Homo sapiens: one gene and its partner. The protein of the gene in region 1 interacts with the protein of each later gene in a biochemical or structural test. Each region holds a gene or a part of one and is shown on either strand. Other genes may lie near its edges.

Region 1 (3,500 bases):
GCCATTCTGTTGCTTCTGCAGCCAGCCTCCGAATGTACTGCTCATTCACTGACAATAAGATGTTCTCTGGTTTAATGTCAGTGTGGATGATACGGCACTTGGTATGTAAATAATCAAGACCCTGTAACACCTGAATGGAAATAGAGTGGCAGACTTGCAAACACAAAATACAGGCTTTCTGGAGAAGTAAGAGATTATAACATGACATTAAAAAAAAAAAAAAGATATGATAGCGTTTTCTATAGAGAATAAAAGCACCTTTTAAAAAAGCACAAATAAACTTTCTCAGAAAGATTAAACTATGAAAAAGGCAAGAAATTATTTACAATAAAAAATTCTTCAATGTTTTACAAAGCTGATTCTATTTGGAGATATTCTTCAACTATGTACAATGCAAAGACTGAGAATAAACTTCAACACACACACACCCTCTAAGTGTTGTAATGTAGGTGCTGACAGACATTTAGATATCTTTAATTCAAATTTCCTCACTGAGGAAGAATTGAGGTCTCTTGCTGCCCAGTTTGGAGCTCTTTCCAGGACATATAATCCAAACAAATTTTTGCACCTTGAAGTATTAATATTTTCCTGATGGTAAAATCTATACTGTATATTGAAGGCTCTTTAGAAAATTAGAAAATGCCTATGAATCATGCTGTATAAAGAGATGGCAATAATCTGACATAGCAATTATCTATTCATGTAAAATTACTATTTGCAACCAGAACTTCTGGATAAGGGCTCCAATGTTCCCAAGTCAGGAACCTCAGCTTCCCTTTCTAATTATTATAGGAGGCAAACCTGGGGGAAAATGGTTATGCTAAAACATTTAAAAAGAGAATAAGCACAATAAATTCTAAAGGTTGAATGAAATATTTAATTTTAGCAATTAACTTTTTTTTTTTTTTTGAGATGGAGTCTTGCTCTGTCGCCCAGGCTGGAGCGCGGTGGCGCGATCTCAGCTCACTGCAACCTCCGCCTCCCGGGTTCAAGCGATTCTCCTGCCTCAGCCTGCCGAGTAGCTGGGATTATAGGCGCTTACCACCACACCCGGCTAATTTTTGTATTTTTAGTAGAGACGGGGTTTCGCACTGTTGGCCAGGCTGGTCTCGAGCTCCTGACCTCAGGTGATCTGCCCGCCTCGGCCTCCCAAAGTGCTGGGATTACAGGCGTGAGCCACCGCGCCCAGCCAATAACTTACTTTTTAAAACAAAGAATTTTAAAACAAAAATTCTTTTTTTTTTTTGAGACGGAGTCTCGCTCTGTCGCCCAGGCTGGAGTGCAGTGGTGTGATCTCGGCTCACCGCAAGCTCCGCCTCCTGGGTTCACGCCATTCTCCTGCCTCAGCCTCCCGAGTAGCTTGGGACTACAGGTGCCTGCCAAGACACCCGGCTAACTTTTTGTATTTTGAGTAGAGAGGAGGTTTCACCATGTTAGCCAGGATGGTCTTGATCTCCTGACCTCGTGATCTGCCCGCCTCGGCCTCCCAAAGTGCTGGGATTACAGGAATGAGCCACCACACCCGGCCTTAAAACAAAAATTCTATTGGAAAAAATAAAGTCCTGACACTTCAAGAATATTAAAAAATCACTACATAGTCAAGACTAAGATACTTGCTGATTCAAGATACATACTTGCTGAATAATTTTTTTGACACAAGGCAGTGGAAGCCCCTGATAATTGGATTTGATGATCCACTTGAGCAGATGATGCCCCAAAACTTCAAATACCATGCAGATATCTAGGAATTCATTAAGGAGGGAAAAAACGGCACAAAAGAAGAACACGGCAAGACAAGCTGTGAATTCCACCCTATTAAATGTTATGTATTATTTTCTTTCAGTATAAAAAGTTACAGAGCTTGAATGAATAAATATGTAGCTGTTAATATTCTAAAATTTCAAAGTCTAATGCTATAGTCAATGAAAGCATTCATGAAACATTAAATTGTGGGCGGCTGGCTTCATCAATATTATTATGTACATTAAAATACTCAATGGTAAAAGAAAAAGTGAAACCTACATATGCAAATAGTGAAAGAAAGCAGTAGGCTCAAGCCTCAAGCTGTTGATTAGCTTCAGGTAAATTAGTTTCTTCCCTAATATCAAAATTGGTGTCCAGGGTAAAAATTCCCACTCTCACAGCTTCAAAGCAAGGAAAAACAAATTATTCCTTAACTATAGAAGAGATGAATGTACAAGAAAGACTTAAACCTCAAAAACGTAAATGCCAACATTTTTTTTTAAATAGGAAACTTGCTTAATGCTCTGTATTTTACAAAACTAATCTTGATTCCAGTGCCACCATGTGTTGTCCTTATGTATGAACAACCTGATGACACCACACAGCAGGAATACTCTGAGTCTAAAATTGTGCAGGGCACTACAGAGATTTTAGTAGTATCTTGATGTCTTCCACCCCCACTGGCTTCTACATGCAAGTTAAGACATACATATATAGTAATGGTCTAGTGCTCAGACTTTAACATTCTCCATTAAAGGAAAGCCTGAGCTCCTTGGAAAAATGGCCAAATCCAAGGTAGGAAAAATAACAGGGTAAACTTGGAACACCTTGCTGTTCTAACAAATAAAAGAACCTGTCAGGAAGAAACAGGAACCATCTTGAAAAGGATGTCACCAGCCAACATGGAGACTTCTTTTTTTTTTTTTTTTTTGAGACAGAGTCTTGGCTCTGTTGCCCAGGCTGGAGTGCAGTGGCACTATCTCAGCTCACTGCAACCTCTGCCTCTCGGCACTACAGGTGTGTACCACCACGCTGGGCTAATTTTTGTATTTTTAGTACAGATGGGGTTTCACCATATTGGCCAGGCTGGTCTTGAACTCCTGACCTCATAATCTACCTGCCTTGGCCTCCCAAAGTGCTGGGATTACAAGCGTGAGCCACTGCGCCCGGCCAGACCACTATAAAGGATAAAATTATGAGTTAATATATGAATTAAAAACAGAACAAGTCCACACTGATCTGAAAGTAAGTGTGGAGGCAGGAGGAAGAGAAACATCTTCTTTAGAGAAGAAAGCCAAATAATAAATACATAAGGGATTACAGAAATAGAAAATCACCATTTTTACAATCACTATAGTATACTATTACTGATTCAGGTAAGAATCAGTGAATACTAAAACAACTATGTGAAAGACTGTCGGGAAAAAGGATTGTCACAGTGTCAAAATATCATTCCACAGATTGCTTATTAATTACAAAAAGAACAAAGTACCTTTACAACTGGGAAATCTGGAAGGCACTGCCTTAACCAAGTGATCAAACTTACTACCACCAATGATAAGCACAAATTCACACCATGTGCCTTCTAATGCAATATACTAATATGCATTCGAATGCATATTCTAATGCAATAATCCATGTACTATGCTTGACAAACACGGTTAACCTGAATTTAATCATGAGGAAACAATCAAACAAATCCAAACTAAGGTGGCATAAAACAACTAGCCTGGATTCTTAAATTAAAAAAAAAAAAA
Region 2 (5,088 bases), about 99 Mb from region 1:
CAGGGGATTTACAAATATTTAACATGGCAGGATAAGCAACATATTACATTTTGTAAATGCTATTAAGGAACATACGGTGGTGAGCTAAAACTCCCATCATGTACCTGGAAGCATCTGCTATCTATGGAATGAAGAAATATTCTAAAACTTATATCATGCTGAGCAATAAAAAACTAGCAGCAGCAAAACGCAGCAGCAAAAATATGAAAGCCAATCAACAGATGTATTATCAAAAAAGCTAAAATGACTGACCATTATAGGAATCAAATAGATTATTAGTTCACTTGCCAGCTCAACTAAGATACTAGGTAAATTCAAGTAAACCATTCTAACTTAAATTATACTGTTCTCAATGTCTTTACCTGCTTACTAGATAATGCAAAGAAAACTAAAAAGCCACATACTTTAGTAATGTGCTTGTTAAACTGAGAGGTGAAAATTATTTAGGCTTCTACTATTGCATCATATACAATTACATTGTTTTCCAAAATTGGCAACTGTCCAGCTAATTTTTCTTACTAGGATAGAAAACAGGTCTGTGATACTATAAAGAACTAAAGACACCCACAAAGAAAGAGAAACCATTATGATACAAATTCTGGTTTATCAGAAGAGCTAAGGAATACTGTGACCTGCTTTACAGAGCGTTACCTTATATGTTTATAATGGAGACTATCCAAGACTGCAAGAAAATACACATTAAAAAGGCATGAAAATCCAGATATATTCTCCAATAATCAGATTGAAGACATCAGGGAACACAGTTTAATCTCGTTAATCTAGGACTTCCACAGGACTTTATAGGTTTGTAAAGAGTCATTATTTTGACACAGTTGATATATCTGCCATTTCACTAATTATTAAGGTGTCCTTTGGCTCTCCTACCCTAGCTACCCTAACATGATCTATACTGACACTCTAAAAGGACTTCAAAAGAAATACTATTCTTTGGCCAGACAGTAACAGAGACAGAGGAGTAACTGACTGCATTATAGCTACAGAATTACTTGTTTGCAGACTGTCTCATAAAAACATAATATGTAAAGTATAAAAATGAATTGTTTGGTAATTTGAATTTGCTGGTTATTTAGATTCTACACAGAAGAGGTTTTATGACAGTTACCTTTCCTTTGTAAGCTGACATGAAATTAAAAGTCTTACTCATAATTTTAATTCAAAATCAAGACAATTTGACAAATACTTAGGGAAGTGACAACTGAAACTTATCCCATAGAATAATCAGCTTATGATTTTTACTGTTGTTTTTCTGCATGGCTTTTATTTTGTTTCTTTTAAACATTCTTTTAATCTATTTCTATAAAATTCAGAAGAGTAAAAACAGTATGCAGATTACATCAAAAAAGTCAAAATAGTTCCCTGATATCTAAAAGCTATTTTCTAAAAATAATCTCTAAAGTATTTCATATGTTTTACAAATTCAACACATATTACACACTTATTTTAGAAGACTGTATGATTTCAAACTGAAAATTTTGAAATATAGTGACTACCTTTCCCTTTCTTCGCCAGTTTCATCCAAGACCCATGCATATGCAAACGAAGCTTTGCCAGCCTTTTTAGACTCCTGTTCATACTTATGCATAGTTCTTTTGTTTATATTACCCAGAAGATAAAGCATATGGCCCATCAGAGTACTTTTCCCAGCATCAACATGACCTAAAGAAAATTGATTCAGGATTAATACCAGGTACATTTCCAGATGTTCACATTGAGGCATTGCATAAATGTGTAATTCAATATTTCATGTCAGTGGTTTACAGTAATACCAGTATTTATCAAATGACAGTTAAAACATCTAATAGAAAAAAAAAAGAGCATATCTCTTTACAGACGGGGGGAATTTCTCAGATTTTTGGAAATTAAAATTGTCAACAAGACACGCCAATTTCAAAATGTTCACAAAATGAAAAATCCCACAATCAAGTGTAATGACCTCTTTGGTAACTTGGCATTATCTCTCCCCACATGACTAGAAAGCATTATGAGACTGTGCCTCCTTGCTCTCTGTCCATTCCACCCATGGAGAAACTCAGAGTTTCCATGCTGCCTCCAGACAGTGGGCAGGCTAAGGCATGGCTGGCTGACGATCCAGAGGGACAAAGAGCATTACCAATGACCACTAAGTTGAGTAGCTGCTTCCCTCCTTGCCGCTTCTCCAGTTCCGCCTTCACATCTATTTGCTGCCTCAGCTTGCCAGACTTTTTCACCGGTGCTGGGGTTGAACTCTGCTCTTCTGATGCTTGAATCGTGTGGGGTGGATTAGCAGATTTAGAAGCAGTCTCAAGAACATCGGAAGAAGCAATGGCATCTTCAATGGGCGGTCCTTTTTGAGGTGTGTGGAAACTATGACCATTTTCTTCAGAAGATACTCTACAGAAGGCAGATAGGAAAAAAGTATTTGAAACCAACTCTATTGATGTCCTACAATGACAGAAGGGCAGAGAAACTGTTTCTTCATAATCCTTTATGCTCCAGACCAGAAATAATCTCTGCTAAGTAGCTAAAGTCTGTTAAGGTGGAAATGATAAGTAGCTAGACTCAAACCACACAAATACAACCGTGGAAGATCCCATGAGAAAAACTGTACCAAAAATGAAGATAAGAAGAAAATAATGTTGAAAAATAACTGAAATTCAAAATCAAGCCCACAGTCTTGGCCATATAATCCATCCTATCAAAATCAATGGTATGAAGGAGATATTTTGTAAAATTGGCACCAAATATATTACTGGAGATGAATTAGTACTAAAATATAGTTTTACTTCAACTCATCCTTCCAACATGATAGACTTATGATCTTTTTTACTCAAATACTACCCCGAGGGGAGATATCTCTAAATGACTACAGTTCATAAACATTTTTGACAGTGGAGCTTTAATTCATTAATTCAACAAACACTTGATTTATTAAAAACTACAACATATACTAGGGACTGATGTCAAAAAGAAAATGACATAGAAATTAAAAAGTTAACTACCACTCTTAAAAGATTACAATCTAGTGAGGAACTCAGATATATAAAGGAGAAACAAGACTGCCCAGCTTAACTTATTCTTTCCTTAACAAAAGTAAACACTGATCTTAGTTCTTCATGAGCTCGTTGACACTCCACATAGAAACTAGTACCAGTGCAACTCTGAATAGCTATAAGGAATGTGACCTAATAATCAGACTATGATATGCCTCACTTTGCTTTAACAACTATGGATAAACAGAATTAGGACAAAGAGCAGGTTAAATTGGAAGTTATTAAGAATGAAACCAATTATATCCAACTCTATGTGGAGCTGGCAAAGAAAAACTACATATAGAAAGCAATTTATAATAATCATTTAAGATTGTAGCATGATGGATATGTGTAAGCACATCTATTTTCTTCTTGCCTATTATAACAAAAAATACATTGGTTTTTCCCTGTCAGGGCATTTTTATATGCCCAACATTAGCCCTTCACAATACGCCTCAGGAAAAGAGTCACAATAGTTATATTTGCAACTTTATTTAAAGCCACATATCCATTCTCATTTTATTTTGCTTTTTCAAATCTCCACTAACCAATTTAGGTGTTCATTTTTGAGCACTGCTTAGACAGATGCACTTCATCTTAAACTAGTAGGTAAAAACAGTAATATGCAGGAAATGTTCCCATACTTTTAAAGGATTCTAACAGGCTAAATTAAGTGAAATCAAACAGACTATAATTTGCAAATATTTGTTTGAATGACCACAGCTAGTTCTAAAACCAAAACTTGACAATTCTATACTTAGAAGAATTTTTAAAGCCCCACAAATTATAATACAAGTGATCTACTGTGACTAGACATAGGCTCTGGTCTGAATCAGACCTGGCAGAAATCACAATCTCGGGCCCCAGATCTTTTTGTTTTTAGCTGCAAAACATTTTCTTCAGAGGCAAGCTTGCATTAAATTCAATATGGAAAACAGATCAAAGCAGACAGCTATGGTGGACAGAGTGGGCAGGGGCTTGAAGCTCAGCTCCCCCACCAATCCAGGCAGCCCTCAGAGGGGCTGCCAGAATAGGAAGGGCTTCACAAAACAGGGCTGACTTGATCATTTCATCTGCAATTCAATAACATGAAAGGTTTGTTTTCCTCTGGCTTTCAGGATAGCATTTTCATTTAAGTAAATCTTTTTCTTTTCTTTTTTTTTTTTTTTTTGAGATGGAGTCTCCCTCTATCACCCAGGCTGGAGTGCAATGGTGCGATCTCAGCTCACTGCAACCTCCGCCTCCCAGGTTCCAGCAATTCTCCTGCCTCAGCCTACTGAGTAGCTGGGATTACAGGCGCTGGCCACTACACCCGGATAATTTTTGTATTTTTAGTAGAGACAGGGTTTCACCACATTGGCCAGGCTGGTATTGAACTCCTGACCCCAAGTAATCCACCTGCCTCGGCCTCCCAAAGTGCTGATATTACAGGGGTGAGCTACTGTACCCGGCCCCTTTTAAGTAAATCTTAGGTAAACTGTAAATTAATTCACTAAAATTCTACAGTGTTAGTGGGAAATGACCAAAGTAATTAGAAAAGTATCCTAGGTAAGTCTGCCCTTAGTAAAAAAAACTTCTGCATATTATGAAATAAAAGTCAATGTTTTAAGATTTGAAAAATATCTAAGATAAGGTCTAAAAATGACCATTTGGATTTCAGGCCTATAATTAATTACTGACTGGTATGAATGAAAGAATAAGTTGGTTGGATTTTTTTCAGGTGCTTTCTGGTATCATTTTGTAAGCTTTTTTTCTTTCTTTCTTTCTTTCTGTTTTTTGAGATGGTCTCGCTCTCGCTGTGTTGCCCAGGCTGGAGCGCAGTGGTACAATATTGGCTCACTGCAGTCTTGGCCTCCCAGGTTCAAGTGATCCCACCTCAGCCTCTTAAGTAGCTGGGACCACAGGCAAGCACCACTATACCCAGCTAATTTTTTTTTTTTTTTGGTAGAGATGGGGGAATCTCAATATATTGCCCGAGCTGGTCTTGAACTCTTAGGCTCAAGTGATGCTCCCACCTCAGCCTCCTAAAGTGCTGGAATTACAGTCACGAGCCACAATG

The links.
Region 2: of the proteins of SRPK1 (region 1) and HBS1L, one has a biochemical effect on the other in vitro, tested with the Homo sapiens proteins (one large-scale study listed by BioGRID and IntAct).

The regions. Positions count from the first base shown.
Region 1 is NC_000006.12:35,872,599-35,876,098, forward strand, and holds part of SRPK1 (SRSF protein kinase 1), read right to left. Parts: intron 1,742-3,500; coding exon 1,635-1,741; intron 131-1,634; coding exon 1-130. UniProt on the Homo sapiens protein: Serine/arginine-rich protein-specific kinase which specifically phosphorylates its substrates at serine residues located in regions rich in arginine/serine dipeptides, known as RS domains and is involved in the phosphorylation of SR splicing factors and the regulation of splicing.
Region 2 is NC_000006.12:134,995,266-135,000,353, forward strand, and holds part of HBS1L (HBS1-like protein), read right to left. Parts: intron 2,392-5,088; coding exon 2,132-2,391; intron 1,678-2,131; coding exon 1,512-1,677; intron 1-1,511. UniProt on the Homo sapiens protein: GTPase component of the Pelota-HBS1L complex, a complex that recognizes stalled ribosomes and triggers the No-Go Decay (NGD) pathway.